3 separate regions of the Homo sapiens genome follow, and regions 1 and 3 are each reported to be linked to region 2. Evidence: microRNA targets listed by miRTarBase, many of them from high-throughput screens and not tested one by one. Region 2 holds a microRNA gene; each other region holds the end of a gene's coding sequence.
Evidence for each region. Region 2 holds the annotated microRNA hsa-miR-6822-3p (AGGCUCUAACUGGCUUUCCCUGCA, at 1,998-2,021, opposite strand). A microRNA usually pairs through its seed, bases 2 to 8, with sites in the 3' UTR of a target mRNA and lowers its output. Matches are read on the target gene's strand: a 7mer-m8 pairs with bases 2 to 8, a 7mer-A1 pairs with bases 2 to 7 and ends in A, and an 8mer does both.

Region 1 (3,211 bases), not on the chromosome of region 2:
ATTTAAAAAAAATTATATATTTTATAGGGAAATTAGTTATGTTCTTTGTCAGAGTGGTCAGATAGTGTCAGTTAGGCATACTCATGTTCTAAAAAGTCTGTAATCAGTGATCAACAAAACACTGCCTTGATTTTACCCGCCCTGCCTCCCCCTCTCCTTTTTTTTGGCTGTAATGGAAGACCTTTCTAAACCTTGCCATCATAAAAATATGATCTGATAGTGTAAACCCACAATTAAGAGTTTTCAAAATTTTAAACTGATCATTAGGCATTTTAAAGACACACATACAGATAAAGCTATTTTTTTTTTTCTTTTCAGCACTCACCTTTGCCCTGGGTACTCTTCTTGTATGTGTTTCCATATATCTCTATGGATTACCCAGACAAGACACTACATCCATCCAACAAGGAGAAACAGCTTCAAAGGAGAGAGTTATTGGTGTGTGATTTTAGCCTCACGTGAGACTCCTTTTAAGACTAAACCATTTGCATTAAACTAGAGCCTTAAGTCAATCTCAGAAGGTAGCATAAACAAATAAAAATTAACTGTATGGCATGATCAGTGCGGTTATGTGGAAACAACAACAAACAAACGAAGCTATCTGAGTGAACTGCTAATACAGAAACTTAATGTAGACCTGTTTGGGGTCTACTATTGTTTTAGAATGAAGGAATTGTATTATTGTGTGTATATATAATTTGTAAATAAAAAGTATGGAGATGATACGGTGTTAAAAAAAATCATGGTAAGGCTACAATACTCAAGTAACAAGGTTTGGGACAATGTCTAAGGGTTAAAGTGCCAAAGCCATTTCTGTACTAACTGTTCTCTTGTTCCGGTACCGGGGAGAAGGATGACCCCTCCTTATTCTCCAATTCATGTACAGTATTTTGTCCTAGCAGCATAAAGACCTAGCTCTTTTCTTACAAGAGGCAGAAACAAGACAGGCTAGTTCATAAACAAACTGTGTAACTTCTCAAAATGAATCTATTTCATAACTCGGACAATTTCTGGGTGGTGACTGAGTACCCCTTTAGTGAGTACCCCTTTAGTGCTATATTTGTGCCATTCATTATCTGGTTCATATTTCTTTTCTGTTAGATGATACACATTTCTTCAAAAAAATTTCTAATGTCACTTTTGTACTTTTTTAAATAAAGTATGTTTAACTGTTGGGCTCTCAATAATTTGTGAAATTTCAGTGTTTTCTATAATGTTAATGGGGAAATTCAGCAATAAACTTTATTTGTAAGAAAGAATTGTTTAATCACTTTATATTATAGATATGACCATTAAGATAATGCACTTTTATTTTCTATATGTAGAAATGCACTTTTATTTTCTATATGTGGAAGTCTATCGGTTAGGGTTCTCTGGCTGCAAATCAACTCAACTCTGGCAAGCCTTAAGCAAAAAAGAAAGAATTTTTAAGAAGGTCCACAATCAGGGCTACAGGCGTCTAGGTTCTAAGAATTAATGGACAGTTGTCTTTTCAGCTTTTGTAAAGATCTGGCTTTACCTATTACTGTTCCTGTATGGTTTCACTCACGATTCAAATACTCGGGAAGACACTACTGATCTTGGAAGGGGAAAGTTTCTTCAAACAAGTAGAGAGGGATATTGGATGTGTAAAACATGTCCCTACTTTATATTTTTATCCCATGGCTGGTTTATGCTAAGAAAAATGTGACACTACTTTAAGTCGAAAATTAGCTATCTGGGAGCTAATTCACTTAAATTGGAACTGCAAGGCTGAATCTTTTCTAGGACTAAGAAGGTAAGCCATAGTTGCTAATATGAAACAATTTTCACTCTAACTAGAGAAGCTTCAGTTGTGCTAACTTGGTAAATAGACCGTCACTGGTATTCAAAAGCCTACTATTAGCAACATTTAGAATAAATTATAGCAGACCTGAATGGAAATGCTGGCTGATGGGAATGGCCGTACTGATCAAACACATCACATCCTACTCTTGTTTCCTAAGCCATGCTCATGTTATCTAATGAAGCCACACAAAAATATGAAGATAGATACATGAAGGAAACCATAAGAAACTCCATTTCAAATTATGGTTGAATTAATGGACTACATTTTACAAAAAGATCCTAATTCAACGTCTTTACAAGTAATTCCTTCCTATTAAAATGTATTTAGTTCCTGAATTCACACAATAAGAGTTACCTGTGTGTGTGTGTGTATATATATATATATATATATATATATTTTTTATTTATTTTTTTTGAGACAGAATCTCGCCCTGTCGCTCAGGCTGGAGTGCAGTGGTGCGATCTCGGCTCACTGCAAGTTCCGCCTCCTGGGTTCACGCCATTCTCCTGCCTTAGCCTCCCGAGTAACTGGGACTACAGGCCCCGCCACCACGCCTGGCTACTTTTTTTGTATTTTTAGTAGATACGGGGTTTCACCGTGTTAGCCAGGATGGTCTCGATCTACTGATCTCGTGATTTGCCCGCCGCAGCCTCCCAAAGTGCTGGGATTATAGGCATGAGCCACCACGCCCAGCCCTGTATATATTAACTCAAAGGGAAGCACGAGGTCTATTGTCTCTAGGAGTAGCTGTCAGCTATATTGACAGAACGGTGCTTATTTTTGATCTCCCTATGTTTACTCCAAACTAGCCACAATTACAAGAAAATTGATAATATTTTCCCCTCACCAATTCTTTTATTTCATGAAAACATTAAATCATTTCAGTTATAAGAATAGTTTCTGGAAGAATGACATGGTAAGAAACTTCAAGCCAAAGTTTAAACTCAAATCCTTTAGCCCCATTAGACCACAATGCTTTGGGTTTAAAAAACTCAATGTCTATTTAAATACCTACTGACCATGAGAGAATTCAGATAACTCATTTATTTAAGGATAAAGACTGAATAACTTGACAAGTCACATTTAATACAGATTCTGACACAGAATAATAGTTTAACTTTGGCTGGGCGTGGTGGTTCATGCCTCTAATCCCAACACTTTGGGAGGCCAAGGCAGACAGATAACCTGAGGTCGGGAGTGCAAGACCAGCCTGACCAACATAGAGAAACCCTGTCTCTACTAAAAATACAAAATTAGCCTGGCGTGATGGCACGTGCCTGTAATCCCAGCTACTCAGGAGGCTGAGGCAGGAGAATTGCTTGAACCTGGGAGGTGGAGGTTGCAGTGAGCCAACATCACACCATTGCACTCCAGCCTGGGCAA
Region 2 (3,259 bases):
CAGATCACAGAAAGGGGACTGGGTTTTCCCGTAGGAAAAATGGTAGTAACCTGGAGAAAGCATTCCAGATCCCCAGCTCATATCAACAAACCATGTATGTGATCAGCAGTGTGTTATAAAAACAAGGCTCAGCACCATCCGAGTTACACTGTTCCAAAGGGACCCTTATCTGTCCACTGTTCCCAAACCTTAGTCACTGGACAACTGCTCTTGAAAACTCTGCCCATATCATATCTGCATTCTACTTACTCTAAATAATTTTTCTTTAAATCAATTATATCAGTATGCTTAAAAGTTAAACCCATCCCATGGAACAGCACCCATAAATTCCTGACTTTTCTGTGCTAGTTGGTTTTCCATGTAAAAATGATGTGTTTTTAAAAACACATAGTTATTAAACTTTAAAATGTTTGCTGTGTATCACTGGCAGAGAGTTGTGCCATGATTTGGGAGACATCTAATTTCCTGCCACAAATGGGGACACTAAGACCCAGAGAGGGGAAGGGACCCGGGAAAGCCACATTGGGAGATCCTAGGCTTCCTGATTGTCCTGAGGCCAGACTGTCCCATTATTGGCATCCTTAATGACATCAAGGAAGACTGGTATTGGGAGCACAGCAAAGGTGCCCTCTGTCACCCTCTTGCCAGTTGCAGTTAACATTATTCATCTAAATAGGAACCACTGCATTTGCCCCCTTAGACATTAAAAGGGTTTCTGTAGGATGTTAGATAGGCAGTGTATTTTGTAAAAGCTGAAGTGGGAACTATTTTTTCTTGGCATGTATTTCCTTGTGCCAGGCGAGGGTAGTCAGGTTTGTCCCAAACTGGTAAGGACTAGAAGAAGCCAGCTGGACTTGGCGGGGAGTGGGGGTGCGGGGGGCAGGGGCAAGGGAAACAATGCATGGACAGGGTGGGACAATGGCTCTTGCACCCTGCAGGCCCTCTCACACAGGGCCTTAGCTGTGCGGGCCTTCTGCAGTTAATCCTCCTGTCTGGGCCCACTGCCCACAGCATCCTGGGCCCACCGCCAGGCAGACTCAGGGTAGCATGGCAGGGAGAAGTATCTGCTTCTTTAGCTCCAGGATCCTGGAGACCAGACAGGAGAGGGGCAACAACCATTGAAAAACAGCTGAAGGGGATTCTTTTCAACCACCATTCCACTAGGAGCCCCCTCTTTGCTCCCCTCCGCCCCCTCAAAGAGTCTGGGATAAAAGCGAGGTCTGTTAGAAAGCGCCCAATGAGCCCAGCAAAAGTTAAGCCAGTTGATGTCTTTCTTCCCAGAGCAAAATTTCTTGTGCCTTAAAAACATAAAGTTAGGTCAGATGAGACATGACTCAAAATAAACCACATACACTATAGAAATGGGGAAGAATGTGTCATTTTCTGAATCCCTTCTCCACTGACCCACTTTCCATCCCTCCACACAACTTCAGTAGGTTGATGGCTTCTACTGGTCCAGGCCCCTTGACCCCAGCTAGGGCCTCAGGGACCTTCGGGCCTTTTCCAAAATTTCCTCCCTGATCTTGGGGTAGTCGGGGTGCTCCCTGAGGACCTGGAACAGAGAGAGAATGGGTGTGCAGTATCATGCAGGTTTCCCCACCACTACACCAGGCCCTCCCCACCAAGGCTGCTGGCTTACATCGTTGCAGATTTCAATGGCCTCCACAAATTTCTTGTCCTTCAGGTAGTTGAAAGCAAGTTTGAAGCCTACCGGGGACATGGAGAGCAAAGATGGTGGCACCCTGGTGACCTGAGAACCCCTCTGGTTCTCATAACAGCCAGGGTACAGGCCTTGAGTTCTGGGGTCATGGTGGGGGCCCTCCTGCCCACCTCCCTCCCACGTCCATTCACGTGCACCCTGGCTGGTTGCCTTACCAATGGCAGGGTTGGCGTGATGACTGTACTTCCAGGCCAGTTTGTAGTTGGTGACTGCATCCTTGTAGGACTGCTCCTTCTCCATGATGAAGCCCATGTACTCATAGGCCTTGTAGCAGGACTGCAGGGAAAGCCAGTTAGAGCCTCTGCAGAGCGGAAGCCCCAACTGGTTCCCTGGGCCAGGGTGGGACTGGGACCAGAACCAGAAGCAGGCAAGGGACAGAAGTGAGCTGCCATAAACCAAACTGCCAAGGGACCCCAGGGGTACCCCAACCTTTGCAAGAAGCCAACTGTGTGCCCTCCTCTCAGCTACCCCAGACACTGGCGTAACCCCTTTCCCTGTAGCCCTCCTGTTCCGCCACTCCCATTCCTGGCCTGCTCTGACCTGCAAAAGTCCCTCCAGCTTGGAACCCATGAAGCTTTCCCATCTCTTTCTGTCCTTTAGTGTTCCCTCCTCTGGACATAACACGACCCCTGTGCACCTCCTCTCACCTGGTCCATCGCCCTTGATCCTCATTCCTATTCTGGTCTGTCGCCCATGTGCCCCTCTCAGCCTGCCTCTTCCCGACTAGTTCTTATTCCATATGGCCTCTACCTGCAAAGCCTGCTTCACCTTCCTGGAATGCCTAGAATCCTTTCCGCCATCCCGCAGCCCTAGTGTGTGTGTGGCTCCTTGCCTTGTTGTATTGCACACAGCGCCGCAGCAGTTCTAAGGCGAGGTCGAACTTGCTGCCCTGGCAGTAAATGTCAGCCAGCAGGAGCCAGCTCTTCTCCAGGTCCTCAGCCTCACTCAGCACCCAGGGGGTCTTGGCCAGGCGCTTCAACTGCATACGCGCCTTGGGGATCTGCTTCAGGAACACGTAGGCTTGTGCCAAGGCCAGCAGGGCAGGGACGCTGTCCTTCTACACACCAGGTAGGAAGTGGACGTCAGCACGTGTTGGCCGCCTGGTCTTCTCGGCCCTGCCACCTGCCCATGCCCGCCAGTCCCCACCAGCCACACCTCAGCCTGCGCTATCTGGATGAAGCTGCCCAGCGCAGCCTCCATGTTAGCCTTCTCCCTGGTGGCCAGCCGGCAGAGGCCCTGCAGCAGCCGCAGCTGGGTCTGGCTGGAGTCTGAATGTGGGTAAAACTCACGCAGCAGTTTCTCGGCGGTGCTCACACCCTGCTGCTCCAACTCCTTCTTCTCCATGTAGCTGCAGGTGTTAGACCTGGGTATCAGACACAGGCCGGTGGCCTGCCCGTGTGGCCCTCACCTGGCTTCAACCCAGAGGTTGCAGGCTTTCTGTAACTTCCCCAGGGTTCCGCCCCTGCCTCCATGGGCCCTTACTTGCTCTCAGCTCCCTGGTTCTCAAAAGCCTCTCCGCCCACAACCTCGTTGTCTGGA
Region 3 (3,259 bases), not on the chromosome of region 2:
TCTGGCAGCAGATAGAAAGGAATGATGCTCTGGAGAGGAGGTAGGGACACTCTGCGGTCGGCCAGTGGATACATGAGGGGCCCGGCTGGAAGTGGGATCTGTAATTAGAGGGAGAAGTAAAGGTTTGATAGAGATCCTGAAAATAACTTGTAAAACCATTTTTCTTCCATCAACTGATATCAGCTTATAACATGTGGTCTATGTTCTACTAACCTAGAATTTTATCTACTAAAATATCTTGGTACCATTTGTCTAAATGAGTCTACAGCTCAATAGTCTACAAATCTAAGTCCTATATATTCAGATCTCTGACCAAGCACATCACCATGGAGCCACGCTGCCTTGACTGCTGTCTACTAGCTGTTTGTCCTTGGGCCAGCAACTTAAGTTCTCTCTGCCTCGGCTTCCTCATCTGAAAAACAGGGATAACAATATCTACCTCATAGGGTTGTTGTGATGATTAAAATTAAGCATTTAGAATAGTGCTGGCACAGATGTGCCAACAAACATTAGCTGTTTTTATTATCACTAGTTGTGATGGAATAATCATGTATTCCATTTTATATAAAGATGGCAATCTTAATCCAGAGAGAAAACACCAGTGCATGTAACAATAACAATGTGATAATAAAGATATATGCAAGATATTATAAAAATTAAGCTTAAAGAAAGGCATTTTTGTTTAAAGCTCCTTTTAAAAATAAAGGCCATCCTCATGTTTGTGTAGTCTTTTGTTAAGTCACTAATTCCCACATATTGCTTCAAATTGCAGACACCTTGCAGACTGAAGAAAAATGGAAGAATTGAATAAATTATGCTTAGAGTTTCCTCCCCTTCTCTAAGATCTCAGCTCACATTGCATCCTGGACCTTGGGAACACCCAAATCCCAAAACGAAATTGTGTTGAACAAAAATATCTGCATTCATGAAAGAGGGTATCCAGAAGTTATTAATGTAAATCTTTCCCATTTCAAAATTCTAGTTATTTGAATATTGATAGATTAGCCTCTGGTGTGTAATTGCTCAAACCTCACACATCAGAAAAACACATGATTACACAATAGCTGCAAAATGAGTCATGACAAATGGGCTGTGCCAAGTCATCGCAGCTGCAACTGATATACAAACCATGGCATGGAACAAAAGCCACACAGAAGGTTGCTGGTTGTTTGAGAAGTATCAGTTTGAAAATTGTACATGAGAAAGCGTATGGACAAGTAACACTAAGTATTCCAAAACAAAGCCTTTTTAAGGAAATACAACATATGGCAGAGGATAGATATCATGATTTAGATCTTTGGCTTTCAGGAATTCAGGTGACACATTCACTAGTGCTAAAGAAGGCAGCTCTGGAATGTTGCATGGCTTACAGGATTGAATAAATCATACAGGAGCAGACAAAATGTATTCTTTTTTAAAGTATTGAAAAAGAAGAGAAGGGGATAAACCTCTAGAATTATCTGATGAACTCTTCCCTTTCTCCATGTTCCTGCTGCTGCAAGTACTGAGAGGAAGTACGGTGTAAAAGACAGGGGTTTTATGATCAATCAGACTTGGGTTCATATCCCAATACTCGTTAACTGTGTGACTGTGAGAACATCATTTAATCTATTTGTATCCAAGTTTGCTCATCTATAAAATGGGGAAATACTTTGTAGGGTTCTTGTGAGATTCAGAAGTACCATTTGTACAATACCAGGCACATAGTACGTGCCCTCAAAATGGTAGCTGTTATTGATGTTGCCCTAGGAAGACATGTGTCTGCTTTGGTACATTCTGTGTCTGTGCTGTCTATTAATTAGTGACAGATACCTATAAGCACAGTCAACTAGAAAAGCGCAGCAGCAGAACACTTTCTGTAGGAAGACCACGTAACTAAAATTGGCAGAAATAGTGAAGTGCTACTTCCTGTCACTTAGAAGGCTATGCTAAAGTACTTAGGGCTTCAACGTGACTCTGCCTAGAGATTCTTAGTAGTATTAATTTGTTTCTTACTCATTAAAGGGCAGCATCTGGATATTTAAGGACATTAATACTTTAAACAAAGGAATGAAATTTATGTTTCTACTCAGTAGGTAAGGTTTCTTCCACAGGGGTCTGAAGCCACTTAAACATAATAAATGAAATATTCAGAATCTCCCCACTCCCCTCTGAAATGTTCCTTTGCTTATTAAAGCCATTTGTCATATAGGTAGACATCTCTGAACTCATTCTTATATGCAAAACCCAAGTATTTATATGTCTAGGATAGTTTTGAAATATTAAAACAAGCCAAGTAACTGCCATCCCCCATTCCCCCACCAAAGTAACAACAAAACCAGTCTGAACACAATACAGCAGGAAAAAAAATCAGAATTAAATTCTCTATCACCAAATAGAACTTGGGCCGAATACACATTTTAAATATCAAGCTAATACAGTGACTAGCTTAAGCTAACACAGCAAATATACTGTTATTTAACTGCGTGATTTAATGATTTATTTACCATGCGGGGAAGAATATTCATGCATCCTCTAAACTTGCAAAAGCTGCATACAAGCCATATCATTTCATATTTACCTTTAATTCTTCGGTTTATCTTCCACTGCTCATGCCTCTGTCTTCATAAATGGTAATTTCAATCTAAACAGCATGGCTGTTAAGAAAACACACTACAGGACACAACACACAAAGGGGGACTTGGCAAGGTGGAGGGTGTGATCTGCAGACTTTGCTTTCAGTTTGCTTTATTTTTCAATTATTAAACATTTTTCCTACTTAAGTTTGCTTTCTCCAATTTGCTGAAAATTTTAAGAAATGTAATTATAGTAGTCCACATGTAGTTCCTTCCCAAACACTGATAACTTATGTTTTGAAAACAAAACAAATAAATTCTGAAAACGATGCTTTATTTGTTGAACTAGGGAGTTCTTAACTGAGAATCCATGGAGGTAATGAATTCAGGGATTTAAAAATACCCTGAAATTATATGAAAACTTTTTTCTTGGGAAAGGGTTCATGACCCCTGAAAGTTTAAGAACTATTGTTGCAGAGTATAACAAAACTGCTGAAATTATTATCAGCTGGAAGGCCTGGGATTATGTGACCTAGGTTTTTAAAAAAATTTATTTACCCATTACTCCAGTTATCAAGCTAAATTAGTTTTTTGCAATTTTATTTACCAAATTCACTTAGTGATTTTCAAAGCTTACTGCCTCTAAAAATATGCACAGTATGTCAAAGGTAATGAAATTACACATCTGGCAGCTGTAACTGATT

Region 1: the mRNA of SLC35A1 is a reported target of hsa-miR-6822-3p. Seed matches in the 3' UTR shown: 7mer-m8 at 497-503.
Region 3: the mRNA of GOLGA7 is a reported target of hsa-miR-6822-3p. The part of its 3' UTR that is shown has no 7-base or 8-base seed match.

Annotation. Positions count from the first base shown.
Region 1 is chr6:87,511,081-87,514,291 of GRCh38, forward strand. SLC35A1 (solute carrier family 35 member A1) reads left to right here. Exons shown (of 8, transcript NM_006416.5): 8 at 319-1,256. The coding sequence ends at 446. RARS2 (arginyl-tRNA synthetase 2, mitochondrial) reads right to left here. Exons shown (of 20, transcript NM_020320.5): 20 at 2,858-3,211. Among named protein-coding and RNA genes, the nearest start is that of SLC35A1, 40 kb to the left of the region's middle.
Region 2 is chr3:39,137,004-39,140,262 of GRCh38, reverse strand. MIR6822 (microRNA 6822) reads right to left here and starts at 2,057; the gene lies at 1,997-2,057. It overlaps TTC21A (tetratricopeptide repeat domain 21A), which reads right to left. Exons shown (of 29, transcript NM_001366900.1): 24 at 3,203-3,259; 25 at 2,876-3,068; 26 at 2,553-2,777; 27 at 1,876-1,996; 28 at 1,640-1,707; 29 at 1,363-1,552. The coding sequence ends at 1,475. RefSeq lists an enhancer at 3,116-3,259.
Region 3 is chr8:41,506,423-41,509,681 of GRCh38, reverse strand. GOLGA7 (golgin A7) reads right to left here. Exons shown (of 5, transcript NM_001002296.2): 4 at 2,561-2,623; 5 at 1-98. The coding sequence ends at 2,576. Among named protein-coding and RNA genes, the nearest start is that of GOLGA7, 17 kb to the right of the region's middle.